Regions from separate parts of the Homo sapiens genome. Here all the other regions are reported to be linked to region 2. Evidence: microRNA targets listed by miRTarBase, many of them from high-throughput screens and not tested one by one. Region 2 holds a microRNA gene; each other region holds the end of a gene's coding sequence.
Evidence for each region. Region 2 holds the annotated microRNA hsa-miR-6086 (GGAGGUUGGGAAGGGCAGAG, at 2,576-2,595, opposite strand). A microRNA usually pairs through its seed, bases 2 to 8, with sites in the 3' UTR of a target mRNA and lowers its output. Matches are read on the target gene's strand: a 7mer-m8 pairs with bases 2 to 8, a 7mer-A1 pairs with bases 2 to 7 and ends in A, and an 8mer does both.

Region 1: miRTarBase lists PSD4 as a target of hsa-miR-6086. Seed matches in the 3' UTR shown: 7mer-m8 at 2,599-2,605.
Region 3: the mRNA of TMEM154 is a reported target of hsa-miR-6086. Seed matches in the 3' UTR shown: 7mer-m8 at 3,853-3,859.
Region 4: miRTarBase lists FLCN as a target of hsa-miR-6086. Seed matches in the 3' UTR shown: 7mer-m8 at 1,745-1,751.
Region 5: the mRNA of PDK1 is a reported target of hsa-miR-6086. The part of its 3' UTR that is shown has no 7-base or 8-base seed match.
Region 6: miRTarBase lists RFTN2 as a target of hsa-miR-6086. Seed matches in the 3' UTR shown: 7mer-m8 at 1,045-1,051, 7mer-m8 at 2,236-2,242 and 7mer-m8 at 3,023-3,029.
Region 7: the mRNA of MPL is a reported target of hsa-miR-6086. Seed matches in the 3' UTR shown: 7mer-m8 at 2,900-2,906 and 7mer-m8 at 2,724-2,730.

Annotation. Positions count from the first base shown.
Region 1 is chr2:113,201,045-113,205,044 of GRCh38, forward strand. PSD4 (pleckstrin and Sec7 domain containing 4) reads left to right here. Exons shown (of 17, transcript NM_012455.3): 17 at 114-4,000. The coding sequence ends at 371. Among named protein-coding and RNA genes, the nearest start is that of PSD4, 29 kb to the left of the region's middle. RefSeq lists enhancers at 2,841-2,890, 3,231-3,280.
Region 2 is chrX:13,588,556-13,592,887 of GRCh38, reverse strand. It overlaps MIR6086 (microRNA 6086), which reads right to left and starts at 2,596; the gene lies at 2,542-2,596. EGFL6 (EGF like domain multiple 6) reads right to left here. Exons shown (of 12, transcript NM_015507.4): 2 at 3,220-3,332.
Region 3 is chr4:152,625,144-152,629,475 of GRCh38, reverse strand. It overlaps TMEM154 (transmembrane protein 154), which reads left to right. Exons shown (of 7, transcript NM_152680.3): 7 at 915-4,332. The coding sequence ends at 930. Among named protein-coding and RNA genes, the nearest start is that of TMEM154, 53 kb to the left of the region's middle.
Region 4 is chr17:17,210,138-17,214,469 of GRCh38, reverse strand. FLCN (folliculin) reads left to right here. Exons shown (of 14, transcript NM_144997.7): 14 at 614-2,258. The coding sequence ends at 815. Among named protein-coding and RNA genes, the nearest start is that of PLD6, 6.0 kb to the right of the region's middle.
Region 5 is chr2:172,595,551-172,599,882 of GRCh38, forward strand. PDK1 (pyruvate dehydrogenase kinase 1) reads left to right here. Exons shown (of 11, transcript NM_002610.5): 11 at 279-4,332. The coding sequence ends at 419. Among named protein-coding and RNA genes, the nearest start is that of PDK1-AS1, 41 kb to the left of the region's middle.
Region 6 is chr2:197,568,573-197,572,904 of GRCh38, reverse strand. It overlaps RFTN2 (raftlin family member 2), which reads left to right. Exons shown (of 9, transcript NM_144629.3): 9 at 625-4,332. The coding sequence ends at 897. It overlaps LOC124907952 (a long non-coding RNA gene), which reads right to left. Exons shown (of 2, transcript XR_007087918.1): 2 at 1-923. Among named protein-coding and RNA genes, the nearest start is that of MOB4, 55 kb to the right of the region's middle.
Region 7 is chr1:43,351,994-43,356,265 of GRCh38, reverse strand. It overlaps MPL (MPL proto-oncogene, thrombopoietin receptor), which reads right to left. Exons shown (of 12, transcript NM_005373.3): 11 at 3,963-4,050; 12 at 1,800-3,748. The coding sequence ends at 3,494. It overlaps CDC20-DT (CDC20 divergent transcript), which reads left to right. Exons shown (of 4, transcript NR_183650.1): 4 at 1,260-1,582. Among named protein-coding and RNA genes, the nearest start is that of CDC20-DT, 4.5 kb to the left of the region's middle.

The DNA.
Region 1 (4,000 bases), not on the chromosome of region 2:
CGAGGTCTGTATCGCCATAGCTTCATGTACCTGTGAGCTGTCCCTCACGATTCTAGCCTCCTCCCAACCTGGAGCCAGGATGGTGCTAAGGTGGTGGGGCCTGTGTGTTGCAGAAAACCCGCTACGAGACCTACGTGCAGCTGCTGGTGGCCCGCCTGCACTGCCCCTCTGATGCTCTGGACCTGTGGGAGGAGCAGCTGGGGAGGGAAGCTGGAGGCACTCGGGAGCCCAAGCTCAGCCTGAAGAAGTCCCACTCGAGCCCGTCCCTGCACCAGGATGAGGCTCCCACCACGGCCAAGGTGAAGCGCAACATCTCAGAGCGCAGAACCTACCGGAAGATCATCCCTAAGCGGAACCGCAATCAGCTGTGAAGCCAGCACCACCTCAGAGACACTGTTCCCTGCTCCAGGGTAGACCTGAGATGAACCTCCCTGGAGGAGACTTATTTCAATGAGTCCACCATGACGGATGAGGCACCTCCTTTCCCTGCTGAAGGACAAACCTTGTTTCCCTGTGGCCCTCATTCTTGTGCTCCCTGAAGCTTTCCTAATATTGCTGTGCTCCCCACCACCCCCATGGCAGTCCCTCCGCAGCCCCAGTCCCTGGCCACGCCCAAGGGAAGAGGGAGGTGAGGACTTGACTTTCCTCCCAGAGCTCAGCCCATGTCACCCTCCAGGCCCCAGAATCCAGAGTGGCCTCATTTCCTAGACTTGCTGAGAACTCAGCACTTGTTTGAGAACCAGTGCTTATGTGGTGTGCCCTTGGCTTCTGGGGGAGAGCTTGGGGCAGCAGAGGCCCCTGGGCAGCCCAGCCAGGGGAGCCACAGCCCCAAGGATGGTCTTGCTCTGGGAATTAGGTGACCTTCCTGGGGAGGCCCCAGGAGAGTGAATCAGGGACTCTTGAGAAATTCCTAACCAGCCTCCTGTGACCCAGGGAGCAGGGTCGCTAAGGTCCTGCCCACTGAGGGGACAGCCTTCTGGGCAGGGACCTCGGGGGGCTTCAAGGGCTCTGCACGGCTGTGGGGCCCTGTGCCTTTGTCTCCTTGTGTCTCCTTTCCCCCGAAGTAGATGAAACAGTCTCACATACCCAACTGCTCATCAACAGAGCAGAGCTGATGGCATGAGTGAGGGCTGGGCGGGGTGGGGCCTCCAGAGCTTTGCAGGGAACCCTGGAACCCTAGGAACAAGGAGCCTTTGTTCCAACAGAGCAGAGAAGGAGGTTCTCTATGTTCAGACCACTGGAGAGGATAGAGAGGTAAAAGGTGGCGACAGTTTCCCTTAGGGGTCTGCCTGGCAGGAGCCACAGCTCAGGAGAGTTGTGAGGGATGGGACGGAGGCTGGCGACCAGGCGAGGCCTAGGCCAGGCTCGGGAGACTTTTCTGTGCTCCTTTCTACACATGCCTTAAACCTTCCTTCCTGTGGGGTGCCTGGACCCCTTCCCCATCTCTGGCAGCTCAGAGGGTCTCTGCTGCTCTCCCCTGGGAAATCCCCTCATCCTGCCCTCTGGCTGCCTCCCAGCTGGGCTTGTTCTCTGAGGGAGGTTCCGGAGACTCATGGACTTGGGGCTCTGCCTGTAGGAAGGAGGCTGGGCCGGAGGGACCAGCCACCATTGTCTCTGTTCAGCCAAGTGTGCAAGTAGGCTGCCCGCCAAGAGGGGGCCTCTGCTACCCGCTGCTGCCTGCCGGCTGACACACTGCCTCCCCAGCCTTCCTGCTAGGCCACCCTCCTCCCTTCCCATGCTTGTAACCAGCTCTGGGGCTTGCACCTCCACAAAGTAAGGTTGGCCCTTGGAGGCCATGTTTGGGTCTCCGGCCAGGGCCTAGGGCTAGGCCATGCACCCAATGGGTGCACAATAAATAACAGGTCAACAAAGAGGGAGGTGTGTCAGTGTGTGAGGAAGGGAGGTCAGGCAGCTAGGACCACCTGCAGTGTGGCAGGCTTCATCCCTCTTTGCTCCAAGTGTGTATGTGTGTCTGTGCATGTGTGTAGTGTCTGTGTCTGTGTGTTCATGCATATGCAGGAGTCACACGGTCATAGGCCATCAAAGCTGGAGGAGACCTCAGAATCATTCATTCACCTACTTGCTCATTTATTCATTCATTCATTTTGCAGATAATATGGGACGCTTTCTATGTGCCAGTACCAGGGGATTCACAAATGAATTAAACATGTCCCTGACTCCATGAGTTGACAATCTTGCCCACTGGTTTCCTGCTCTCAGTTTACAGAGGCACTTTTATCTTGCTGGGGAAGTGTGCTGAAAAGACACATTCCCAGCCCACACCCAGGGATGCTGATTCAGTCAGCCTGGGTCAGAGGGATAGATAAATATGTTTAAAGCTCCTTGGGTAATTCTGATGTGTAAGTAGCAGTTAGCTGCAGTAGAGTCCAATTGCCTCATTTGATTGAAGTGGAATCCCAGCATCAAGTGGACATGACTTTTGGCCCAAGACTGATGCTTACAAACTAAGTGGAGTAGGTTATTTGACCTCACTGAACATGCATCCTTTTTTTTTTTTTTTTTTTTTTTTTTTTTTGGAGACGGAGTTTCGCTCTTGTAACCCAGGCTGGAGTGCAATGGTGTGATCTTGGCTGACTGCAACCTCCACTGAATCAAGCGATTCTCCTGCCTCAGCCTCCCAAGTAGCTAGGATTACAGGCGTGTGCCACCACGCCCGGCTATTTTTTGTATTTTTAGTAGAGATGGGGTTTCGTCATGTTGGCTAGGCTGGTCTCGAACTCCTGACCTCAGGTAGTCTGCCTGCCTCGGCCCCCCAAAGTGCTGGGATTACAGGCGTGAACCACCACACCTGGCCTATGCATCCTTATTTCTAAAACCATGATAAAAGGTGAAAGTCTGAATGCATGTGTGTGTGACACTTTGATGCTCCTTTGCTCATGTAGAACCGGCACCTCTCTTTCACCTGAGCACGTGGAATCTTCAGAGCCAGATGATGGTGGCTGCCTGGCCTGCCATAGTCAATGCTGCCCAGGCACCTCTGCCTGGAGGGTCTGGGTTGTGGGCTGCAGTTATGACATGTGACCACTTGGAGGCAGGCTTGCATCTTTCTAGCTTCTGGCTGCTCAGGTGTCCTGCTGTGGAGCTGAGCTGTGCTCCCTGAAAGGCAGGAAGTTATTATGTGTGCCCCTGTGCCATCACCGAACCAGGACCTTCAACTTCGTAAAACCCACAGTGGCCTGGGCCAGGACTCCCACCATCTAGGGAAGCCTCTCCTAGGGAAAAGACTGGGGCTCTGACATCTTCCTGCAGATGGAGAGAAAGAAAGACATCTCAGAAGTCTATGGGGACAGCCTACAGCTCCCCACAGGGTTGCTCCAGGTAACGCTGGAAGGTGAAAGCTGAGCAGGCTCCAGTCCCCATCCTAGGTATGGAACAGATCAAACCACCACAGGCCTATGTCTGACCTTGTTCCCACCCCATGCTCCTCTCCCACCTGTGTCCTTCTCTTTGCAGGAGAAGGGACAGACAGAGGTTCTCAGTGATGAGCTCAGGCTCTGGAAGGGCACTTGAAGTTTGGCTTTAGTTCTTCCTTTCCCATATAGGGGAGCTCAGCTTCCAGGGTCCTGGGCCTGCTGTGACCCAGGTTGTTACTCCTGATATAACTGCTTCCTGGGCTCTCATGATCTCAGCTGAGCCTGGCTTTCTGCTGATGATATTTGTTTGTTGCTTGCCAGGCACCAGGGTAGATAAAAAGATCACCAAGACCCGCACCTTTTTCCTTAGGAGGGTCTGAGTCTTCAGGAGACGGAGACATATGGAATGTGTCGGGGTTGGAAGGAGCAGGACTGGAGGGTCGGGGTGAGGGGGGCAGAGGGAAACAGGGCCGTCAGGGTGGCCTGAGGCCAGATCATACAGGGTCTCCAATGCAGCCAAGGAGAGTGGCTTTTTGTGAATGTGCAGTGCAACTTTTTTTTTTTTTTGAGACAGAGTCTCGCTCTGTTGCCCAGGCTGGAGTGCAATGGTGCGATCTCAGCTCACT
Region 2 (4,332 bases):
TTCTTTTCTAGCCCCCCCACCCCCCCGACAAAGGCAACACTGTGGGCAAAAGATATTGCTTGCTATTCTCTAGACCTACCCTTTACTTTCTACCTTTTCCTACCCCTCCCTAGGATACTCTTCCCTGGGTTTCCAGTAGTTCATATCCTCCCCATTCTTCAAGGACCACCTTGCATGGCCCCTTCTTCTAAAAGCCTTTACAGATTTCTCCAGCCACCTATGAATGCCCACTCAACTTCGAGAACTCCACAGAACTTTGGCAGGCCTCTCCTGTGCAACTGATCAGTTTTTGTCTTATTAAATAATGAGGCATATATTTGGCTACAGTGCTTGTCTTTCATCCACTACTTGTTTCCAAGTGCCTTCAGGACAGGGACTTAAACATTCATCATTGTTTCCCCTGTAGCATTTAATATAGTGTTGTAAACATGTTAAATATTTGAATATTTTTGAATAATGAATAAAGTAATTACTGTAGAACTTTTAATGGGGGAACATTTTATGGCCCTGAACAAATCATAAGGGAAAAATGCTTCCCCAGCAAGGTTTTTCCACTTTTAGAGACAAAAGAGAGAGAATTTAATTTCCAGTGTCTACTTTGTTATGGATATGTACTTGGAGTTGCAACTTTAAATTCAGATGTTAGAAAAATAAATCTTTTTTTTTTTTTTTAAGCCCTGAAGACCTCTAGTTGTTCCCTGGAAACTGATTTCCAATGTGGTCCAGACAGGAAAGCCCAGCATAAATGCCAAATAGAACATAGGAGAAATGGTGAATAATACCCTTGCTATAAGGTTAAAGCTTCAGTAAGATGTTTTCAATTTACAGTAACTTTGGATCTGTGACTTCAACAGCCAATCGACAGCAAGGGAAATTCAGTTTGTGTTTAAAATGGCCTGAGATTGAAGCATGATTTAGACAAAGTAAAAGTCTTATTTGGTTCTCCCCCAAACTTCTCTATCTGAAGCTTTTCATCAGGTACTTGTTTATGGACAATTCTGTATTTCATCTCACTGAAGTGGCATACATTTTAAGGTTAATGATATCGAACTGATGAGACCCTGCCTTGGGAGGAGATTTAGACAGGGTAGAGGCTGAGAGCTAGAAGGCTCCAGGATACATAGAGGCAGGGCTTCAAAAGGAGTGAAGGGCAAATAGATGGACAGAGGGGAAGGCCTGGGTAGACTGTGACCTCACAGCCTGGGGTCTGGCTCTCCTTGTTGGGGCAGGTTGATGTGTATTCTTATTATCATGCATCCCACAACTCTGGCTTAGAAATCAGAAACCCAGCAATCAGGGAATAACTACCCTGTTATTTGGTGCTTCAAGAAACATGACTTTACCATCAAGAAGGACCATGCAAATTGGATAAAACATGATACACATTTTAGATCTAAAAATCATTGCAATTTAAGACCTGAACATTTGACTGGAGCAGTAGGTGTGCTGACCGTCTCTTCAGCTTGCAAAACTTGCATAGTGAGCATTTTGCTTGAACCCCCTGCACTTGCCCTTTTAACACCTTGCCTTCATTTATTCACCAGCGACATGCTGGGTCTCACAAGTTTTATGGCAGTAGACGCTGATGTTCGTGCAACTGTAAGAGAGACTCTAAATCATGTGTTTCACGTGGTTTTTGCCCCTTTCCACCTGACTGACTTCAAATAAAAATGTGTTATGTTGTGTCTAGCAAAAGAATAAAGCCACATTTAATCCCCCCATCACCTGGTGCTTTAATGACGAGAAGTCTGTGATGAGAATTATTGGTCCTTCCTGAAGGAATGGTAATTTATGAGGTATTTTCTATGCATGCCAGGTAATGAACTCACCCTTTAATGCATACATTCCTTACTCTCAGAGGTAGGTATTGCTCTCTCCAGGTTGCAGAGGAGGAAATTGAGCCTTAGCTAGCTTACCTTAGCTAGCTTGCCCAAGGTCACCCACGTCAGTCTGGTTCTCAATGCCCTTGATCATGACACTATCAATCCAATCAGGATGAGGACCCACCCTTTTAATTGACACAAGTCCCAGGAGGATATTCTAACTTCCTTTATCTAAGTGGGCAATGATGATCTTTGTTTTTGTCTAGTATTTTTATGCTCTTGTCATCTTGTCACAAGCAAACTATGATGGCAGAAGGTTTTGCATAATATGGAACATGTGGGAACGATATCAATGTTTTCTATTGTTTTATAGATTTTGGATATTATCAAGTTCTGACCCCACTTATGGTCAATCCAGATATTTTTTAACCAGCCAGAGAGAAGGAGGTTGGGGCAGGAACAGACTAGCAAAAAGAAGGTAGCATTGTTATTCCTAAAAATAGCTAACATGTTAGTGCTTTTATGGGACCTGCAACTGTGTTGTTATCCCATTTAATAGATAAATAACTTAGGATGAGGCACATGCTACCTACTGAAGGACACAGGGACAGTGAGAGTAGACTACTGCCCTGAAGGAATACACCCCTGGTGAGACAGTCAGGAGGAATGTGGATTTGGTTCTGCTACACTGCCAGTGTTGGTCGTTATGGAAAGTCATAAAAAGAAAAACAAGGCAAAAACTTTATGCTCATCTCTGCCCTTCCCAACCTCCTTGAAATGATCAGAGGCCTCTCTCGGAGTTCCTAACACATAGTCTGAGAAACAATGTCCAAGGCAAATTATGGTTCCTTGGTTTGCAATGTACAAAAAAATCAGCAAAATACTTAAAATCTTTGCATATATGCATATGTACCTTGAAAGCATTTAGAAATTGGCAGTATGAATTTTAAAAATGTGAGTTACAAATCTATAAGCTAAAAGGTGTACTTATTTTGTGGCTGAAGCCTACTGGTTGGGTGATTAATAATTAAAGTTTATTGCATTGGAAATCACTTAAATTATAATTAGAGGAGAAATTTACCAGCCTGCTTTTGCCCATCTTAGTTCCTTTAGATTAAAAAGAAAACCAAAAACAAACAACCCAGTCATACTCATTAAGATAATCACAAAAATAATTGACAAGACAGTCTTCTAAAATAAATCATGCCAAGTATGATGGCGTCAGCCACATTTTGTCTGGGAAGAGATCTCATAGGAACCCAGACCTTGGTTATTGGTAGTTATGCATGTCCTTGCCTGAGAGATCCACTGGCAATTTTGTGGCAGTTCATGGTATGACAGATAAAAACCTAAGGGCCCTGATCCAAGTGCAGGGTCTGAGTTTTTACAAAATTACCTTCACAGACTCCCTTGCTGTTTCTTCTCCAGCCGTAGCAGCAGGCCAGTTTAGTTCCATAGTGACAGACCCCAGGCTGACGTGCCGATGCTAACAACCCGTGATGCCTTGCACTGCAGATAAAGAACTACATGTTAGTATTGAGAAAATAGAAAAGACAACAGAAACTCTTCCCTACTACTAAAAGAACCAGAGATGTCAATTACCTGGTTAATTTCAACGAACCCGCAGTAAGTGCTAAATTAGATTTTGAAAACCTGAATTTTGGGGTTGCCAGCCTTCCTCAATAATTAGTTTCAACCATTTCCTTCTTCCCCACGGTTAAAAGAATCTATAAAACTAGGGCACATGAAGATGTCCAAAGTATATGTTTTTGAACCTTGTAGAGTGTCACTTTTCAGATCTGCTCTGTATACGCACAGCAACTATCCAGTTCTTTGTCTATTTCAGTCACTTTCTAATCCTGTGGCTTTGTCCCAGACCAGAGCTCTGCACTTTTATCCCACTGGCACCTGGGAACCATTGAATAGACTGGAATCAACATACACTATAGATGATTAAGAGTTGGAAGGGCTCGTTCAGCAAAGCCCTCTTATGTTACAGAGGAGGAAACTCCAGTCCAATGGAGTGGAGTCACATCCCCAGCAGAGCTGGGTGTTGGGAATTCTAGCCCAGGGCTCGTTCCCATTGACCTCCTGGAAACCCAATTTGCTAAACTGCTTAATTTTAGAGCAGAGATCGGCAAACATTTTCTGTAAAAAGCCAGATGGTAAGTATTTTAGGCTTTGTAGGGCCATAAGATATCTGTCCAAGTACAAAAGCAGCCATAGGCAATAGTAAACAGATGCGCATGACTGTGTTCCAATAAAACTTTATTTATGGACACTGTAATTTGAATAGCATATAATTTTCCTGTGTCATGATATGGTATTCTCCTTTTGCTCCATCTTCTAACATTTAAAAATGTAAAAACTGTTCTTCGCTCATGGGCTGTTTATAAAGAGGGGATCACCTAGCTTTGGCCAGCAGGCTGTAGCTTGCCTGATCTAGATGCCTGAAAAAGGTGAGCCCCCTGTCCCCCACCAAGTGCCCCCAAGTAGTGCCGCCATGGAT
Region 3 (4,332 bases), not on the chromosome of region 2:
AGCCAAGTTAGAAGCAAAAGACCAAATTAGCCAACAGCATGGTCATGTTCAAATACCATGTACATCATTTATGTCTGCTCACACCCCAGGATGCCCGATGTTTGAATTCTAAATGACACTGAGAAGGCCCCTTCAGCTCCTTTGTAGGTATGAACAAAACGGGCTATTGAAGACATGCCAGGACCACAAACTCTTGAGAGAAAACGGCATGTGGAAAATTTGTTTCAGCAAAAGGCAATTTGGCACGTATTCGTAGAGAATGGGATTAGATTTATTAAACGGGGAACCCCCAACTCCATCTGGTTCTCTCTGCATCAGCACTGGGGAGGGCTATGAGGAGAAAGAGCTAGGGATTATTTTTTGGCTTTCATGGATTTCTTCCTCAGGGATCAGATATAAAATTTAGACTGACCTTCGTTTCAGAAATTGTAAGCTGGACACCATTGGCTTCCTGATGGTTTGTGATCTCTTCAGTCACCTCCATAATGGAGTGACCAGCTCTCTTTAGCTTCTTAGAGATATGTTACTGTTGGCCGGGTGCAGTGGCTCACACCTGTAATTCCAGCACTTTGGGAGGTCAAGGTGGGCAGATCACAAGGTCAGGAGATCGAGACCATCCTGGCTAACATGGTGAAACCCCGCCTCTACTAAAAAAAAAAAAAATACAAAAAATTAGCCAGGCTTGGTGGTGGGTGCCTGTAGTCCCAGCTACTCAGGAGGCTGAGGCAGGAGAATGACCTGAACCTGGGAGGTGGAGCTTGCAGTGGGCCGAGATTGTGCCACTGCGCTCCAGCCTGGGCGACGGAGCCAGACTCCGTCTCAAAAAAAAAAAAAAAAGAAAGAAATATATTACTGTTTTGTGTGTGTGTGTGTGTTTTTTTTGTTTTTTTTTTTTTTTTTTTTTTTTTTTACAGTGACAGTGAATCCTAAACCTGAATGGCGCTCATGTTTTCCAAGAGAAGCAGCCCCTGAGGGAGTCTGCTGAGGCTGCCAACAGAGGATGAAGAGGATACAAATTTAATTAATTTCAAATCAACATAGACACAAGAACCTTTTGCTGTTTCTTCCAACGCCCACTCTTCCTAATGATGGCATCACTTGCACTTGGAAGAATGTGCAATTGAGAAGTACTAGGAAAAGGCCTGGCTGCCATCCATCGCTGCCTCTGAGGGTGGAGAAGGAGGCGGGTGATGTGCTCACTTCTGATCAACATGTGTTGCCTCCTCTCAGCCAACTTCTAGCTCACTGAACTCACTCTGGTCATGATAAATGTTCGTCACCTTTCTGCTTCATTCCTTAGGGCCTAAATCAGGAAGCTGTTTTATCGATGGTTTCCTTTTGGGTCAGTAACCAGCTTTGGATAATTTCCTCTGATTATTCAAGTCGTGGGACAGGTAAACTACATTCAGCAGGAACTTTTCTCGAGGAGTGTTATGTCATGGAAAAGACACCAAACACAGCAAGTATTTTAATGAATACACCATCCCAGGGGGTCAGTAAGCTCTGCCTGCCAAGAAGACACAGTGAGAGGGGTCCACAGTCCTGATGAGGTGGCGTTTGGTAACTTGTAGACCCTAGCATGGCCAGGTCTGGTCACCCTTAAGAACTTCTCAGAGAAACTAGGAATCTTCAGTGAAAGAACTAATGTTCTCCTCAGCTGAAATTCCCTTGCTTGTCAGCATTTCTGCAAAGCTCACACTTGTTTCACCATACCTCCCTTGGATGTGACATGTAGGTAGGAAGTATGTGCAGGTGGGAGTCATCTGTCAGCCTTCTATGTTTCAGAGATCCTGAAGGTGGTTTGAAACAAACAGAAGAGGAGCAGGAAATATCCGTGCCTGTGGCAGATCTCACTCATCATGCTTAGCATTCTCTCCCGCCAAGCTGGGATAAGCCTCATGTCCTAACACAGCACAACAGGAGGTCTCTGTCAGTCCATCAGAGATGACATTCTATGTGATATTTTTGACATCCTTGTGCTAAAAGCAATGGCACAAAATGGAAAAGGGCCTATTGACCACACCTACTCCAGTAAAATTGTTCTTCATTTATTCCTTAATTTTCTAAATCTGACCCCTTTAAAGCAATCTAGCAAATTGAGAATCCTCAGCTCTCCTTGGATACCTGATATTTTATTTCAAGAAAGAGACAAAGAAGGAAAATTTTATTTATTTTACTACCCACATATAAACCGAAGGGAGATGGGACTACCCAAACATTTGCTGCTCAATTTTGTGTCTTGTGCTTGAAAGTCTGCCCTAATGCATAACAAAAACTACTTGTCTCCTACCTTTTGGGATCCCTTTAACAAGTATTTGCCTTCTGAACTACGTGGATAATTTCAAAGGCAGAGTTCCAGACCAGAGAGGTCTTTCCATACAATGAAAGCTATAACTAGCTGGTTGTGTTTAACCACTGCTATCACGCTATCCTGGGACTGCATAGAACTTTGACAAAAGACAGACTTCATGGTACACAACTTCAACAGATTTTCTGTCATATTCTCACCAGCACATCTGAATGAGGCTTTGTGTTTTCCTTGCTCTCTTGCATGTTCCTTTTCAACTCATGGCCCACAGTGACTCTCAGATATTTATGCCAAAATTGCATACAATTGTTTTCTGAATCATAACTTGTCTATTTTTCTGCCTATGTGTGCTACTTTCAGTTTGTTTCTCATCAACATTTTGACTCTCAGAAGAGCCTCCATTTGCCCCTTTCTCTCTTTAGGTATCTAAGATCTTTGAACACCTGGGCCTTTACATTTGATCCAACCCTATCAAATAATGAACTTCTCAGAGAGGCATCTGGGGTCCTGGAACTTCATGTTGATGAAGTCATATTATATAATATGATAAAAATATTCTCATGCAGTATTTTAAATAATTTCAAATTCTAGAAGAAGCAAATTTCAGCGACATGTCATTGAGTTTTTATTTGGTAAAGCTATAATTGTGCAGTGTACAAAGCACTTTTTAAAAAGATAGTTTATTCTGTCAGGGTATATGAAGTTAGTATACAGCCAGAACAGCCAAGCCTCAATTCTTGTACCTTGTGTCTTTTTATTACTGTTTAATCAATAGATATCATATGTTTATGACAGTTTCAAGAATTGTTTTTAAACCCAAACTTAATTTTATGTTTCAGACTATTGTTAAAAAAACAAAACAAAAACCAAAAAAACCCTCACTAATTTGCCCTAATTGGATAGGGCAATCAGAACAAAATCTGACTTTCGAATATTTAAAAGATATGTAAGTTTGATTGCATTTTCGTACATTTTAAGCAAACTAGGTTAACAACAACATAGCCTAGTCAAACTTCTCAGGAAACTTGTTTTAATAAATATGTAAAAATACCCATTCATGACTCTTGACCCAATGGTGTGACTCCTCCCTCTGGGAAGGGCTTTGTTACCCAATGCAAGACCACAGCCTGGATCCACCTTGATGTAGGTGGCTCCTGGATAACCCACATCAAACAAATGTGATAAAGATGAGTAAAACTGGTCTTGGGAAAATAATTTCATAGTTTTTTTTTCTCCTAGTTATGCTGTATAATACAGGAGAACCAAAAGCTGTAAAATTATTTTATTTTATTTTTTAAAGACAGGGTCTCACTATGTTGCCCAGGCTGGTTTCAAACTCCTGGGCTCAAGCAGTCCTCCTGTCTCAGCCTCCCAAAGTGCTGGGATTACAGGCATGAGCCACTGAGCCCGACCAGCTGTAAAATTATTATATTCATTTTCACTATGTGCTACTTCTTCTCACCTGACTTTTTTTTTTTTTTTTTGAGATGGAGTCTCACTCTGTCACCCAGGTTAGAGTGCAGTGTCACGATCTCGGCTCACTGCAACCTCCGCCTCCCAGGTTCAAGCAATTCTCTTGCCTCAGCCTCCCAAGCAACTGAGATTACAGGCCTGTGTCACTATGCCCAGCTAATTTTTGTATTTTTAGTAGAGATGGGGTTTTCACCATGTTGGTCAGGCTGGTCTCAAACTCCTGACCTCAAGTGATCCACCAGCCTCGGCCTCCCAAAGTGCTGGATTACAATTGTGAGCCACTGTGTCTGGCCACACACTGACTTTCACTGTAATATCTGGATGTTTTATGTAACATATCTGGGCAATAGGGCTTATGGCAGAATTGGCCCTCGTGGTGTAGGCCTTCCAAGTTCCAAGTCTCATTTTTAGTATTCCTCCGTTCCAACCCCTGGATCCACCAGTTCCAACAGCCTGGATCCACCTTGATATTGACAGCCAGGCAGATGCTTCTGCTGATCACCGCAGCTCTAGCAATGGAAATGGATATGTTAAGAAAATACTTGTCTATT
Region 4 (4,332 bases), not on the chromosome of region 2:
GGCACCCACCACCATGCCTGGCTAATATTTGTATTTTTAGTAGAGACAGGGTTTTAGCATGTTGGCCAGGCTGGTCTTGAACTCCTGACTTCGTGATCCGCCCACCTTGGCCTCCCAAAGTGCTGGGATTACAGGCGTGAGCCACTGCACCTGGCCCCCCGGGTTTTTTTTTTTGTAAGCAAATTTACTTTATTTCCTCCTGCCTCGATTCTTGGTAATTTTTTGGGTCAAATTTATTAATCAAACATTGTCCTGATTTAAAATCATGCAGTGAAGCTTAGGAGCAACCAGTGTCTTCCACGAGTTTAAGGAAGGTTTTTCTTTCTTCTTGGCGTCTTGACAACAGCTTGAGGGAGGGTGTGGGAAGCGCACAGGCCCCATACCCATACCCGACAGAGGGCCGAGCCCAGCCCCGACAGCTTCCCTTCCTTGCTGGGACACAGCTCCTTTCAGCAGTTCAGGGGCCAAGCCTGCTGCCCCAAGGGTGTGGATTCCAGCTCTGCCTGCACAGCTCCTGCTGGTGCCAAAGCCGTGTCACCCCTGGTTGGCCCCGTGACCAGGGCTCGAGGGATTGTGCTGTGGTGTCTGAGTGTTTTGTTTTGGTTTTCTTCAGCAAAGTGAAGGTGCTTTTTAAGTTCACCAAGGTGGACAGTCGACCCAAAGAGGACACACAGAAGCTGCTGAGCATCCTGGGTGCGTCCGAGGAGGACAATGTCAAGCTGCTGAAGTTCTGGATGACTGGCCTGAGCAAGACCTACAAGTCACACCTCATGTCCACGGTCCGCAGCCCCACAGCCTCGGAGTCTCGGAACTGACCCGTCACACACACCTGCCTAAAGACAGGGATGGCTGTCCACAGGATCCTCCAGCCCCGTGAGAGGGACTGTCCCTTGAGTTTCTCAACTGCTGGAAGGAGCTGTGTCCCAGCAAGGAAGGGAAACCATCAGGGCTGGGCTCGGCCCTGTCAGGTTTGGGGCCTGTGTGCTTCCCAGACTCTCCCTCCAGCCGTTGGAATCGCTGAAGATGGCAATGAAAGGCGGAGGGATGATGGGCTCTCTCTGTGTTCAAACTCCTTGGAGAGACGACTAGGAGGACAGCTTGCCTCCCAGGCCCCTTGTGGACTTAGACTCAAAACCCGCAGGAGAAACAGGTCCGACTCAGTATGCAGTCGCAATAACATGTCTGCTCCCGAGGTTAACATTCAAGCGTTTCTACTTTGAAATTCAGCAAGAGTTTCTGGGCCTTATGTTTGAGGGTACCTTTTGCTGCAGTTGTGAATATTCAGTACATTGCCAGCTCTTGGTCACTGAGTGATTGAGTTAGGGCTCCGCAAGAGACTTTGGGGAGTGAAGTGGATCTCTTCCTCATCTTTTGGTCCTCTGAAATGTGTGTTCTGAAGCCATGGGGCTCGTCTTCTGGGGTGTTCCCCTGCAGGTGCTGGTGAAGGTAACCTGGGGCTTAATGATGGAGTCCCTGATCATTTTTGCACAAGACAGGTTGCTGAGGGGTCGGCAAGCATCTGACTTGCCCAATCCCCTGGATATGGTGAGCCCCGCCATGCTTTTATTCTGTATCGCTTTTGTCTTTATTGCTGCTTTCAACATTTACGTTTGGTTACAGTTAACTATTTTCGGAGTGTGGTGATTGAAGACAATTTCATCATCCCACTGTACTTTTTTTTTTGAGAGGGAGTTTCACTCTTGTTGCCCAGGCTGGAGTGCAATGGCACGATCTTGGCTCACTGCAACCTCTGCCTCCTGGGTTCAAGCAATTCTCCTGCCTCAGCCTCCAGAGTAGCTGGAACTACAGGTGCCCGCCACTATGCCCAGCTAATTTTTGTATTTTTTAGTAGAGACGGGGTTTCACCGTGTTGGCCGGGCTGGTCTCAAACTCCTGACCTCAGGTGATCCACCCACCTCAGCCTCCCAAAGTGCTGGGATTACAAGCGTGAGCCACTGTGCCTGGCCCTTTTTTTTTTTTTTTTTTTTTTTTTTAAAGAGATGGCATCTTGCTATGTCGTCCAGGCTGGTCTTGAACTCCTGAGTTCAAGCAGTCCTCCTGCTTCAACATACAGCTACAGGTACCCCCCACTATACATTTTTAATAAGGATTCATGGCTCAGAGGGATTTTCTGATGGTTTTGCTGATTTGTTTCTAGTTTTTTTGTGTTTATATTTAACATGAAGACCAAGTTTATATAACTAGGTATCTGTATAATGCAACAACATTGGAACACAATAAAGATGTATTTTTGTAAATTGTTACTACATGGTTTTATTGGTTTGATGCCTACTATTTATTTGCGCTCAGGCACAGGAAATACTATGGTTAAAAAATACCAGTGAGTCAGCCGGGCGCAGTGGCTCATGCCTGTAATCTCAGCACTTTGGGAGGCTGAGGCAGGCGGATCACGAGGTCAGGAGATCGACACCATCCTGGCTAATACGGTGAAACCCTGTCTGTACTAAAAATATAAAAAATTAGCCAGGCATGGTGACAGATGCCTGTAGTCCCAGCTACTCAGGAAGCTGAGGCAGGAGAATCACTTGAACCCGGGAGGCAGAGGTTGCAGTGAGCCAAGATCACACCACTGCACTCCAGCCTGGGCAACAGAGTGAGACTCCATCTCAAAAAACAAAACAAAATACCAGTGAGTGGCCAATTCGCACAGTTAAGCTGCTATAATGATCGTAGACAATCTTCTCCAAGTTAGTCGTTGGAGTTGGTGTTGGAGAGAAGCAAACACTCATTTATCCCAAGGACATCTGTTGAGTACCTATGCCCATGTGCTTTTCATTTTGTTCAGCATTAGAAATGGCTCATCCCTTAATAATGATGATATTTAAAAGACATGTCCATCTGAGAGGAAGATGGCTGGAATCACCCTGGGTGACCGTGGCAATCCCTAAAACAGCAGGTTCACGGTTTAGTCATCTACCTCGAGTGGGAGGGGACCCCCTGGCCAATGTGGGTCAAGGGAGAGATGACCACCCACTGTCCTCCCCGGCTTCGGGTACAGATTCCTGTCTTTCTCTCGTGCATGGCATTCCTGGGAACGTGGTTCTATGCTCAGTTTTTGCCAGTTGTCTGCCAGTCTAGTGGCTGAATCCACTTGGCAAGTAGGAGCCCAGTGTAAGTTAGCTCTGCATTCACTTCAGGGGCATGTGTGACCTGGATTTCCCATGTCTAACAGAGCTTGCTGGCGAGGGGGCAGGCAAGGCCCTATGCCGACTGGTGGTTTTGTTTTTGTTTTTGTTTTTTGAGACAGAGTCTTGCTCCGTTGCCAGGCTGTAGTGCAGTGGTGTGATCTCGGCTCACTGCAAGCTCCGACTCCCTGGTTCAAGCAATTCAGCCTCAGCCTCCCGAGTAACTGGGATTACAGGTACATGCCACCACACCCGGCTAATTTTTGTATTTTTAGTAGAGATGGGGTTTCATCATGTTGGCCAGACTGGTCTCGAACTCCTGACCTCGTGATCCGCCCGCCTCGGCCTCCTAAAGTGCTGGAATTAGAGGGGTGAGCCACCGCACCCAGCTGCCAACTGGTGTTTCTAGGCAGCTGTGGGCTTTTTCTCCCCACAGGCATGCAGTTCTTGAAGATTTTTCCTATTGGTCATGAGTGCAGAAGAGCAGGAGGCTGAGCTGAACCTATGCCAGCCCAAGACCAGGCCAGACTCTGCTGTCCTTGTGAGGGAATAGGGGTTCCTGATTTTGTAGCTTTTCACAAAATGGAAGAGACAGAAAACAAGTTCCAGATCTTGAACCTTCCCCATGTGTTTGAAGGCAGTCAAGGGTTTCCTGATTTTACATTCAAGATACTTACACTCAGGGCCGGGCATGGTGGCTCACGCCTGTAATCCCAGCACTTTGGGAGGCCGAGGCAGGAGGATCACCTGAGCCCAGGAGTTTGATACCAGCCTGGCCAACATGGTGAAACCCCGTCTCTACTAAAAATACAAAAAAAAAAATTAGCCAGGCTGGTGGTGTACGCCTGTAGTCCCAGCTACTCAGGAGGCTGAGGCAGGAGAATCACTTGAGCTCTTATATATTGTGGAAATTAACCCCTTATCTGATAATATAGTTTGTATAAGCTTTTAAAAAATAAATTGTATATATTTAAGGTATACGACATGATGTTAATGACATACACACACATATTAAAATGGTTATTATAGCCAGGCACTGTGGCTCACACCTGTAATCCCAGCACTTTGGGAGGCCAAGGTGGGCGGATCACCTGAGGTCAGGTGTTCGAGACCAGCCTGGCCAACATGGTGAACTCCCATCTCTACTAAAAGTACAAAAATTAGCTAGGCGTGGTGTCAGGCACCT
Region 5 (4,332 bases), not on the chromosome of region 2:
GTGTAAAATTTCAGTCCAGCAGCTTCCAGGATGGCTGGGGAATTACTGTAAGCAACAAACTCAGTCAACCTGCACATCAGTCAGTGCCATAGATTTCATAAATAACACGTTTCAAATATACATACCATTTAAAAGTATATTTAGGTGGTATAAGGATTAATAAGATACTAATAGAATATTATTTAATTTGTCGTAACCTTTTTGCCATTGTCTATTTTCTCAAATAATGAATTCTAAAAAATGCCAGACTTAATAGGTCTTAGGTTTTTCTTTTTCAGGCTCTGTCAACAGACTCAATAGAAAGACTCCCAGTGTATAACAAAGCTGCCTGGAAGCATTACAACACCAACCACGAGGCTGATGACTGGTGCGTCCCCAGCAGAGAACCCAAAGACATGACGACGTTCCGCAGTGCCTAGACACACTTGGGACATCGGAAAATCCAAATGTGGCTTTTGTATTAAATTTGGAAGGTATGGTGTTCAGAACTATATTATACCAAGTACTTTATTTATCGTTTTCACAAAACTATTTGAGTAGAATAAATGGAAACTGAATTCCATTTGTGCCCGTTAAACCTCCTAAAGGATGAAATTGCACCTATTTTACACTTATATTTTCACAGTTAATTGAACATATTTTTAAACAACTGTAGTTTTGGGCAACTTTTCACTTTGTGGTAGACTTCAGAAGTGTGGAAATCTTCGGGTTTCTATAGGAAACTAGTTTTTTTTTTTTAAGAAATACTTTCATTTATGTTTGCTAGAAACATTTTCTAAATGATAGTGATTAGCTGGTTAGCCATCTTCCTGTTATTTGGAGGAGTTCTGCCATCTTTTATTCGGTAGTGACAGCTGTAATATGGTCTTCATGTTTATCAGTGACTTGACTACAAGTAAAGCAGAAAACAGTTGGCCTGTAATCACAGAACCAGCCACCCTTCGGCGTCTACATGCATTGTCTTAGCTCTGAGGTTAATTTACCATTTTTAAATTTTATTGTAAAGAAGTGTAATGACTAGCTCTCTGTGGATCTATGCCAAAATCATGGGCCATCTTTTCTAAGTGTACTTCTGATTAATGCAAGGGGAAATTTTTATACTGAAAACAAACAAACAAACTAGCAGCTACTAAAATAGAGAAGAAATTGAGGGCAAAGTAATATGTCTCCAAAACTGAACTGATTGCTTGTTGAGATTACCTAGAAAGCTTTTGGAAAAAAATAGAGCTTTTCTGCATCCTACTCCAGATACACTGAATCGGAATCCCTAGGGCTAGAGCCTAGAAATCTCACTTTTTAAAATGCTTCCAAGGTAAGTCTGATGCCTACCCTAGGTTGGGAACCACTCTTTCAAAGTAAACAGTGATGACACAGCATTTGCTAAAGTAACATCTGTAGGTTTTGGTTTCCACCTATTTAAAGTCAGATTTATAGACTCGAGGAGACAGAAACTGAATCCCACACCTGGTGCAATTAGAAGCATAATTAGAAGCAGAAGAACAAAATGCCACGTAACCAAAGCATCAGAGCCATCATTGCACGTGTCTTTTTTTCTTTTTTCTTTTTTTTTTTTCAAGACAGGGTCTCGCTCTTTTGCCCAGGATGGAGTACAGTGGCATGGTCAAGGCTCACTGCAGCTTCAATCTTCTGGGCTCAAGTAATCCTTCCACCTCAGCCTCCCATATAGCTGGAACTACAGTTGTGCACTACCACACCCAGCTAATTTTTTGATTTCTTGTGGAGATGAGGTCTCAGTATGTTCCCAGGCTAGTGTTGAACTCCTGAGCTCAAGAAATCCTCCTGCCTGAGTCTCTGAAAGTGCTGGGATTACAGGCGTGAGCCACCACACATGGCCTATTGCACAAGTCTTGACAAACAACATATATTTTCTAAAACTATCCAGATTTCATTATCAGGGAAAAGTTTGCTTAGGTTTATTACAGCAGTCCTTGGCATTTGTATGGTAATTTGTACTTTACAAATACTTTGATATATTATAACTCTATTGGTCTTTGAAACAAAGCGATACAGTGTAGGTGGTATCATTCTCTTTCTCACTCAGTGTGGCCCAGAGTTGCTCAGAATTGGAGCAGAGCCTGAGACGTATCTGCAGATCCTGTCATCAGCTGGCAAGTCCAGGAGACTGTGTCATTTAGAGACTGTGTTGTTAGTTATCCCTCAACATCTTCTAAGGTGGCAGGAAATAATATTGGAAATAACATTTTAAAGTAAAAATTTTAAAGTTTAAAGAAGAGTTTTGCCACTTAAACAGGGGAGCTTTGTCTGGAAAATACACTGAGTTGAAACACTTCATCCTTGGAAGGATTATATAAGATGAACAGTTGTGATAAATGTGTAGATTAGAGGGATGTGAATGGGCAGTTAGTCCAGTGCCCTCATTTAAGAGGCCAAGATCCTGATTCAGAGGAGGCATCCTTTGCCCAGAGCTGCTTAGCTAATCTGACCAAATGTTGGGAAAAATGTCTCACCTAACCCACTATTCCTTAATTATGGATTTTGTGAAAAACAATAGAACATGTTAATGAGTAATTTATATTAGTTCGATGTATTACAATTTTTTAGCTTTAAATTACAGTTTTCTTATAATGTTGAAATGTTTTAGAATCCTTTGAATCTAAGTATTTGTTTCCTAAATGAAACATTTGTACAACATTTGATGTTTTTACTTATGAAATATTCTCCTCCCCCAAGAAAATTTAAACTTTTTCTCTCTATTTAAAAGCTAAGAAATGTTTTAAAGGAAAAATGAAATTATCTTCCTTTAGCTTATTTTTAAGGTAAAACAGCTTTTTACTCTGTTATTGTGGTAATGGACAGAATATTACATACAAAAATATTCTGGGAGAGCTTTTTCCTAGTTGGTTTTAAATCATTGTGCCACCTGAAAGGTTTTTAGATTTTATAGGAGCTAATTTGTCCACCAGCATTAATGTAACACAGTGTAGTTATGAAAATATATTGAAGGACAGGAAGTGGACACGAAGTGATTTTTGTAACCTGAGCAGTTAATGAATGTGCCAACATTTTCTAGGAAGGGACAGCAAGAATATTCTGCTCTGTAGTTAAAATACTGGCTGGCTTTTGATGTCTTCATGCTTAATTGTGATCACTTTCTTGCACTGTGATGTTTTTACGTGAATATGTTGAAGTAGAAGTCTACCATATTATTTTATAAAATGTTTTCTGTATGGCAATAAACTGAAAACATGGATCAACCCTTCTTTTGAAAATAAACTGAGTCAATTTAGCCTTTTAAAAATATAGTCATCTCTTTTAAATAGAATCCTCTTCCACCATCAAGGCTCAACATTTTGTAAGCATCCAAAAAATTGGTAATTAGGGGGCTTGCACTAAATTTCACTATCTTCAGTAGAGAGGAACTGTTTGGAACTTAGATTTCCAATGTGTATATTCTAATGGAGAAAGCAAGAGGTAGAGTTTGTATGTTTGACTTACCTTAGATTTTTATTTTCCATACATACTGCAAATGATTGACTTGTTGCATAAATGAAGATCTTCTGTTGTGTGCTTTTCAAACACTGTAAATAAATTTGAAATTTGAATAACTTTCCACAGTATAACTGTAAAAAAAAAAAAAAAAAGTCTTAATTTAACCAGCATTACCCTCTGCTTGTACCAATTGAATGGCAGAACTACTATAGTCAAAAATAAATTCCTATCCTATTTTTAATTGATGGGATATAGGCAGCACAATTTCCCTTCATTGTTGAAGCCAACAAGTTCCGTAACAGAACTCCAGAGGTAAATAGCTGGGAAAACTGTTAGTTTTAAGGTCCCACTGTTGCTCTGTGAATGACTAATCAGAGGAAGCCAAAAATCAGCCAACTAATTTCAGTTTATGTCTTTAATTGTGATGTAAGTGTGAAGTTTCTACATATGGGTAATCAGGGTTGAGTTAGGTAGTTTGCAAACATGACTTTTGCTGGAGGAACTTTTAATCATGTCTTATTAATTTCTGGTCCCAATAATTAATTTTCTTACAGTCAAACCCAATGCACTTGAAAAATAATATAATTAATACTGTGTGAAGAATTTTTTGCATGTTAAAAAAAGCAAACCACTAGTTTGCTTAGTTCTGGCATTCATAAACTACTGTACCTTCTGTTCTATTGACATGTTTGGAAAAAAGAATTGAACATATGTACCACCCCCCTCTTTCTAGAGTCTCCACAGTTCTTTAGCAATTGCTAACCATAGGTTTTTAATAGCAAAAGACAAGATTGTCAGTTTTTGGTGCAAAACTCTACTCTTTTTGGTTGACTTGGAAAAGCTGTTGTTTATATTGGGAAT
Region 6 (4,332 bases), not on the chromosome of region 2:
AAGGGAACTCCCCTTTATAAAACCATCAGATCTCATGATACTTATTCATGGGATAAGACCCACCCCCATGATTTGACTACCTCCCACTGGGCCCCTCCCACAACACATGGGAAATATGGGAGTTACAATTCAAGATGAGATTTGGGTGGGGACACAGCCAAACCATATCACTGTGACTCTTCTGTGCAGCCTGTGTCTACATGACATGGGTGTAAGGTGGCCATCAAAGCACCTTTTCTGCTGTATAGATCTGAACTAACACTAAGAAGAAAAACATATTAGTATTTATACCTTGCTTTGTTCTCCCAAAGTATGATTTCAACAAATTTCCTTCCTTAGAGATGTCACTGAGGGCCGAGATGTGTACATAACATACCCATCAACAAGAATGATGTGCCAGGAACCTACAAAGAGTTACAAAACAGGGAGAAGGGAGTTCATTTGTATTTGGGTGGAGAGGGGAATGTGGAGGTAGCTCTGAGCTGGTCGTTGAAGATGAGCAGGATTTTGAAGAGCTGGGGAAAAGGACATTCCTGGAGGCAGAAAGGCAGCATGTGCTAGACCAGAGGGACAGGAAACACCCATCTTTTTAACTCTCCTGGTCACCAATGTCTTGTGTTTCAGAAGAAAGCCAGCCGCCACATAAAAGGTGAAGACAAGAATAAAGCCACTAGTAGAAGCATCGGATTAGACACAACCTCGTCACAACCTGCAGAGAGCAGACACCTGCCTGAGGAGTGCCGCCTTTCTCCCTCCCGGGAATGCTGGACAAAGGAGGGAAGGCTGGCACAGCACAACAGCTTCTCTGGGTTCAGCAGCAGTGACAACGTCCTCCGGGAATTAGACGACGGACAGTTTGATCAGGAAGATGGAGTGACTCAGGTCACTTGTATGTGAGCCATGAGGTGAAGCAAAGGAAGGCCCTGTAAATAATTGTTAAAATCATTGCCAACTGACCTTATTGTATTACTTTCTCTGCATTTATGTAATATTTTTGAATTTTTCCAGACCCAGCCTTTCCTCTAATCTATGTAAACTTTGGCACAACCTCCCAGACAAGGAAGAATAACCAACATATTTATACATTTAGAATCATGTTTACACTTCTCTCAACTAAAACATCTGGTTAAACAGATGTTCCATTCGGTTATTACACAATAATCTATTTCAGCTTCTCATGAATGTACAAAGTAGACTTTCTTACAATTCCTGGTAAGGAGACTGAATATCTCAATCAGTATTTTACCCAATTAGAGAGAGTTCTCAGGAAGTTACAGTCTTATTTAAGCTGAAAAATAACCTCTCTCTCTCTTTTTTTTTCTCTCTCTCTCATACACACACACAGCTAATTAGTGCAAATAAATATCTATTTCCCAAATATAATAATTAATCCACATTTTGTCTTTAACTATAGCATGTATATACAAAGCAAGCCCCTATGTGTTAAAATATTTTTTGAAAAAAATCTTTTTTATGTATCTTTGCTTTTAAAGGGTCATGTCACCAACCCTGTACTGATTCATTGTACATAAATGTTGTTGCTCCTAAAAGCCTAAAAATGCAGACAGCAAAGCAGCATCTCTTAAAATTCAATATGAAAAGAACCCATAATCTCAATACATAAATACCTTAGTAGAGAGTAAGATTTAATTTTTTTTTATTTTAAAGTCCAAATACTATGAAGAGGAAAAATATCAACTTCAATTTGAAACTGAAGTCTTTTACATCTGTCTAGATTTGAATTCTGCTTTTATTTTGACTTGTTAAATCCTGAAGAATGTTGAAACCTAGAATTTTCAATCTGGCAGGAGTAGAAAGATGCTCATAGCACACGCGATATGTATGATAACATATTTTGTTTCATCTTGCTTTTCTTTCCCCTTCTAATAGAGGTGGCTTTGCCTTGACCCAGCCTTTAACAATCTTTAAAATTCTACAAAATAAAGGATTTTCATTTATCTATGAAAGGCTTACTTTGAAAGATGGAACCTCCAAGTGAATTACAACTTATTCTATCATTGATGAATTCAGCCTATTATATATTTTTATTAACATTGATGTTGACATTGTAAGATCATTTTAATAATAAAACATCATTTTTATTGTGTTATTGTTTTATTGAACACAAATATTCATATAATATGTTTGGTTTGGGGGTTTTTTGTGGCTTTTTTTGAGACGGAGTCTCACTCTGTCACCCAGGCTGGAATGCAGTGGCACAGTCGCAGCTCACTGCAACCTCCACCTCCTGGCTTCAAGCGATTCTCCTGCCTCAGCCTCCAGATTAGCTGGAACTACAGCCAGTGTGCGCCACCACGCCCAGCTAATTTTTGTATTTTTAGTAGAGATGGGGTTTCACCATGTTGGCCAGGATGGTCTCGATCTCTTGACCTCATGATCTGCCTGCCTTGTCCTCCCAAAATGCTGGGATTACAGGCGTGAGCCACCATGCCTGGCCTTCATATAATATGTTTTATACATATAACAGATATGTATTACATGTTATCAATTATATAGTGTATCTAAACTAAGTCAATCTCCATTAATTGCTGATAAAATTAACAGGAATTATTCCACTTTTATCATCCAGAAGTACAGTATAAAGGAATTTAAGAATATTCTTCTCAGTCTTATTCTATAGCAATAGCTGTCAACAATATTTGCAGAAATGGTTTTTGTTTTGACTTTTAGATGGACTTGAGTTCCATAATCAAGAGTTAGTGGATTTTTGGTAGAAACAATCACTGCTTCAGGAGTCCATAAAACGTAATGAAGTTAGGAAGCACAAAGAACAAATCAGAAAGATCTGTTTTTCCCAATTCCAGGGTCTACAAGAGGTAGAGACTTCTTTATCATTCAGCCCACATACATAGGGGATTGGAAGTAGTAAATTAAAAACAGAGATAGGAATTTATATTTGACTAAGAAAAAACTCAGAAATATAGCAATAACTTTTTTTTTTTTTTTTTTTTTTTGAGACAGAGCCTCACTCTGTCACCCAGGCTGCAATCTCGGCTTACTGCAACCTCCGCCTCCCAGGTTCAAGTGACTCTCCTGCCTCAGCCTCCTGAGTAGCAGGGATTACAGGCCTGCACCACCATGCCTGGCTAAGTTTTGTAATTTTAGTAGAGATGGGGTTTCACCATGTTGGCCAGGCTGGTCTCGAACTCCTGGCCTCAAGCAATCCACCCACCTTGGCCTCCCAATGTGCTGGGATTACAGGTGTGAGCCACTGCACCCAGCCAAGCAATCGCTTTTTTAAAAAATTTGTGTAAGCATACTTTCTCAGTTTATTTTTTTCTCCCCTCCCGTTTATTTTTAATCTGAGTTATTTCTTATTAAAATAACTTTTATTAAAATAAACTTACTAGTCTGTCATATCCTCAAAACTTGTTTTAGAAGCATTTGCTCCAACAATTACCCTTAAGTTATGTGATGAATTTGTATGATAGCGAATAATTTATGATCAAGTGGTTCTAGAGTATTTTAAATGTGTGTAAATAGCTATGAGCCTATTATTTTAAAAAAAGAAAAAAACTTGGGCTCTCTATGCCTAAGGAGTTAAATATGTCTAATTTTATTATCTGCCAGTTGTATATTCAGTTCTTTTTATAACACTATGATTTCCTTAGGGGCTCTGGCATGTGAATTTTTAAAACCTGTAAGTTATAATGAAAGGTATCAAGATCCCAGATGTTGGGTGAAGATCTGCCATTCCCCTTGGTGTAGTATCTATGGCATTTTCATCTTCGTTTTCAATACCAAGTGTTAATTCCATCCCCTTTGGATTGTATACCACCTTGTTATCTTTTATGGACACATTTAACACCTACCTAATCACCAGGGAAATCAGCTCTATCAGTGTCATTACAATTCATTTCAGTAAAAGAGAAAAGGAAAGGTCACCCTCTTTGAGAGATTCTAGGGCTTTCAGGAGGAGGAGAAGCAGGAGACAGAGCTACAGTCTATTCAAATCACAACTATCTCCAAATCATTTGTGTTATCAGGAGCAGGTGTTTATATATTTGAATATAAATGTAACAGATGCATTTTCATTTCTTTCATTCTGGAGTGCCAGAGGAGCTGTCCCGTTTTCCCGCCCTTGCCTGTTATTGATTCCTCACCACCATTCCTTCTTGGCTGGAAGGACTGTGGCCCTTTCCCTCCCCATATGGCTAAAGAGGATTTCTTTCTCTTAACTCTTCAGAGCCCCAGAGTAGTACTGTATGGAAAGTGTAAATTCAGATGGAGAATCAAATGAAGTGAAATTGCTAACAATGGGGATAGTATATAACTAAGAACACATTATATAAAAATGTACTAGTGGATACA
Region 7 (4,272 bases), not on the chromosome of region 2:
TGCCGGCAATCTTTGTCATTCCTTGGCTTATAGAAGAATCGCCCTGTTCTCTGCCTTCATCTTCACTTGGCTTTCTTTCTGTGTGTATGTGTGTCCAATTTTCTCTTTTTATAAGAATACCAATCATATTGAACTAGGGCCCTGACCTCATCTTAACTAATTATATCTGCAATGACCCTATTTCCTAATAAGGTCGTATTTGAAGTACTGGGAGTTAAGACTTCAACATCTGGCTGGGTGTGGTGGCTTACACTTGTAATCCCAGCACTTTGGAAGGCCAAGGCCAGAGGATTGCTTGAGCTCATGAGTTTGGGACCAGTCTGGGCAACATAGTATCACCTTGTCTCTAAAAAAAATACAGAAAACAGGCCTGCGCGGTGGCTCACACCTGTAATCCCAGCACTTTGGGAGGCTGAGGCGGGCGGATCACTAGGTCAGGAGATCGAGACCATCCTGGCTAACGCGGTGAAACCCTGTCCTGCGAAAAATATAAAAAAAATTCGCCGGGCATGGTGGCGGGCGCCTGTAGTCTCAGCTACTCGGGAGGCTGAGGCAGGAGAATGGCGTGAACTCGGGAGGTGGAGCTTGCAGTAGGCCGAGATCGCGCCACTGCACTCCAGCCTGGGCGACAGAGCAAGATTCCATCTCAAAAAAAAATAATAATAATACAGAAAACATTAGCCAAGCTAGTGGTGCACACCTGTAATTCCAGTAGTCCCAGCTACTTGGGAGGCTGAGGTGGGAGGATCGCTTGAGACCAGGAGTTTGAGGCTGCAGTGAGCCGTGACCACACCACTGCATTCCAGCCTGGGCGACAGAGTGAAGACCCTGTCTCAAAAAAAAAAAAAAAAACAAAAAAACTTTTATCTTTTTTTGTGGTGTGGTCTTGGCTCACTGCAACCTCTGCCTCCCGGTTTCAAGTCATTCTTGTGCCTCAGCCTCCCAAGTAGCTGGGATTTCAGGTGTGTGCCACCGGGCCCGGCCAAAAAAAAAAAAAAAAGGACTTTAACATGTGAATTTGAGGGAGAGGAGAGGAATAGAATTCAATCCATAATATCCTCCTACTGTTGGAACCCAAGCAGAAACCAAAGCCCAGGAGAATGCTTGGATGCCAGCCATATGAATCAGCCTTGCTAAGCATAGGACAAGATGGAGAAGGATGGAGAATAGGTCTGGGTGGGACAAATGGATGACATCCAGTATACCCAATCTCCATAATTCCTCCCCAGCCACATGAAAGGCTCTGACTTTACTCCTAGGGACTCAAGACTGGAATGGGAAGAGCATGAAATTGAGCTGTCTATCCCCCTGGATCTCTCATTGCCACCTGCCCATAGGTTGGCTGCACCCCTCCACCAAAGAAAGGCCATGACTCCTTCCTGGCAGCCCTGTCTTACAGCTACTCTCTGGTGATCTGGGAACCACTCCCTCCCTTACCCCTTGATGCCTAGGGCTAGTGCCAGCACCTTGTTGTTGTTAGCCTCAGAGGCACTTGCACTGTTCCTTGATGGTTTTCCCAAATCTTGCCCTCATCTTTGTAAATACTGTTTGCCGTTTATTACACTGTCATCATATTACCCAATTTGAGTGTGTCATCTATTTCTTCCAAGACCCTGACTGATACAGTGGGTATATTTGGAGCCAGAAAAAACAATGACAACAAAACCATTTGTTTGAGAATTAGAATGTGTTAGGAGAGTCCATAATCAGAACTGTCTGAGCACATTTACTGCTGCCTATGAACGGTTTAGAGGATGAGGACAGCTGGCATGGGATTAAGGTAACCTTGTCCAGAAAGATTTCATTCATTTAGAAAAAATTTATTGAAGGCCTACTATCATGCACCAAGCACTACTCTAGGTGCTGGGGGAAAAGGACAAATAAATCATGTTCCTTTCCCTCAAGGAGCTCACAATCTAGTAGCAGGGGACAGATATGTAAACAGTTAGTTGCATAAAGCATCACAGTGCTGTAGTAGATGTCTGAGCTAGAGATAAGAACTTTGGAATGGTCAACATATAGTAAAGGCAGAGAATAGATGGGATTGGAGACTGTTAAGAAATGGAATCTTGAAGGACTGTAATAATTGGAAGAAATGCTAGAAGAGGAGAGTAAGAAGGAATAATTATAACAGTAGTTCGGATATATGAATCATTTACTATGTCCTAGGGACTGTGCTTTACTTAGATTATCTCAATCCTCGTCACAACTCTATGGGGTGCTGTTATTATCCCTGTTTTACAGATGAAAAAACTAAGGCTCAAAGACATTAAGTTATGTGCCCAAGGTTGCACAGCTAGTAAATGTGAAGGACAGGAATTGAATCCAGCTCTGATTCTAGATCTAGTTTATTCTCTTAACTACTAGTACACTCAGCCGGGCGCAGTGGCTCATGCCTGTAATCCTAACACTTTGGGAGGCCAAGGTGGGTGGATCACCCGAGGTTAGGAGTTCAAGACCAGCCTGGGCAACATGGCAAAACCCTGTCTCTACTAAAAATATGAAAATTAGCTGGGGCTGTGCGCAGTGGGTCACACCTGTAATCCCAGCACTTTGGGAGGCAGAGGCAGGCGGATCACGAGATCAGGATATCGAGACCATCCTGGCCAACGTGGTGAAAACCGGTCTCTCCTAAAAATAGAAAAAAATTAGGCATGGTGGCAGACGCCTGTACTCCCAGCTACTTGGGAGGCTGAGGCAGAATGGCTTGAACCCGGGAGGCAGAGGTTGCAGTGAGCCGAGATCGTGCCACTGCACTCCAGTCTGGCAACAGAGCAAGGCTCCGTCTAAAAAAAAAAAAAAAAAAAAAAAAAAAAAATTAGCTGTGTGTGGTGGTGTGCGCCTGTAATCCCAGCTACTAGGGAGGCCGAGGCACAAGAATCGCTTGAACCCGGAGGTGGAGGTTGCAGTGAGCTGAGATCGCGCCATTGCACTGCAGCCTGGGTGACAGAGTGAGACCCTGTCTCAAACAAATAAAAAAAACCTACTAATATACTCAAAGAGGCAGGACCAAGGTAGGAAAGAATTTAAAGGAGAAGTGAGTAGTCAGCCTTGACAAATCTTACAGCGAGATCAAAGGAACTGATGATTAACGAGATCCTATTGGATCTTGGAATTAGAAGATTTGAGGTGCACTTTGCCTGGGCAGTTTCACTAGCAAAGTGTAGTAGGGGAACTAATTGAAGTAGTCTCAAGAGTAAATGGGAAGTGTGGGGAAGTGGAGGCTTGTTTTCAAGGCGTTTGACATCAAAGAGGAGAGAGAAAGTAAAGGAGGAGCTTAGTGAAATGAGCCTGCCTGTGGAGAAAGGGTCCTGGTTTTATGTCAGCAGCAGTAGAGTAAGATCAGTGCAATGAAGCCTAATTGTGAGGGCAGACAGAGGGGGATGGAGGTGAGGTCTGGGGTGCTTGTGTTGTGGGGGTAGGGTAGGGAAGTTCACAGAGAAGTCTCGAGAGTTTAGCTCTGTCCAGGGAACTGGGAGTGAGGAGCCTGTCCTCAAGGCTGCTGCCAATAGCTTAGTGGTAGGTAGGAATGGTTGGCAATGTGGGTGGTACAGCAGGACCCTGACTCAGCCATGGGTGGGCACACAGACAGGGGCATGGTCCCCAGGCAAGAAGGCTGCAATCTTCGGTAGTCCATCTGGGCCTGGGAGGAACACAGGGGCAAAGGAGTCCTCTCTGAGGACTTGGGGAGGATTTCAAGGAGGCTGGGTTCCACTTCTTCACAGGTATCTGAGACTGTGGCCTTGGGCTGGGAGAGATGAGGAGAGGCGCTGGATTAAAGCAGATCCTGTGGGAGGAGGGGCTGGACTGTACAGGAAGGAGAAGGGCTGGGGTAGTGCTGGGGTAGTGCCTGGGGATGGCACACTGGTAGGGCAAGGACCTTGAACAAGTTGTATTGTTGGGGCAAGGATCCAGTACCAGGCAGGGTTGGTGGTGGGCACAGGGGAGGGAAGCACACTCACCGGGCTCAGGGCTGCAGTGTCCCTAAGGTACTGGCCTAGGACCCGGTGCAGGTCTGGAAGTGAGGGCCACAGGGCATGCCTCAGTCTCCTGGGGGAGAAGGAAGAGAAGCAGACTGAGCCATGGCAGTGGATTGGCAGGGAGGAGGACAGCAGTTGGGGTGGGGGAGCAGTGAGGCCGGGGAGTAAGGCTTGGAGATATAAGAGCATGGTCAAGGCAATAAAGTTGGGCAGGGGAGTAGAGTAAGAAGAAAACCTCAGGTAGGGGAGGGAAGTCAGTGGTGGGCAGGTTCAACAAAGGGTGCTGCAGTTT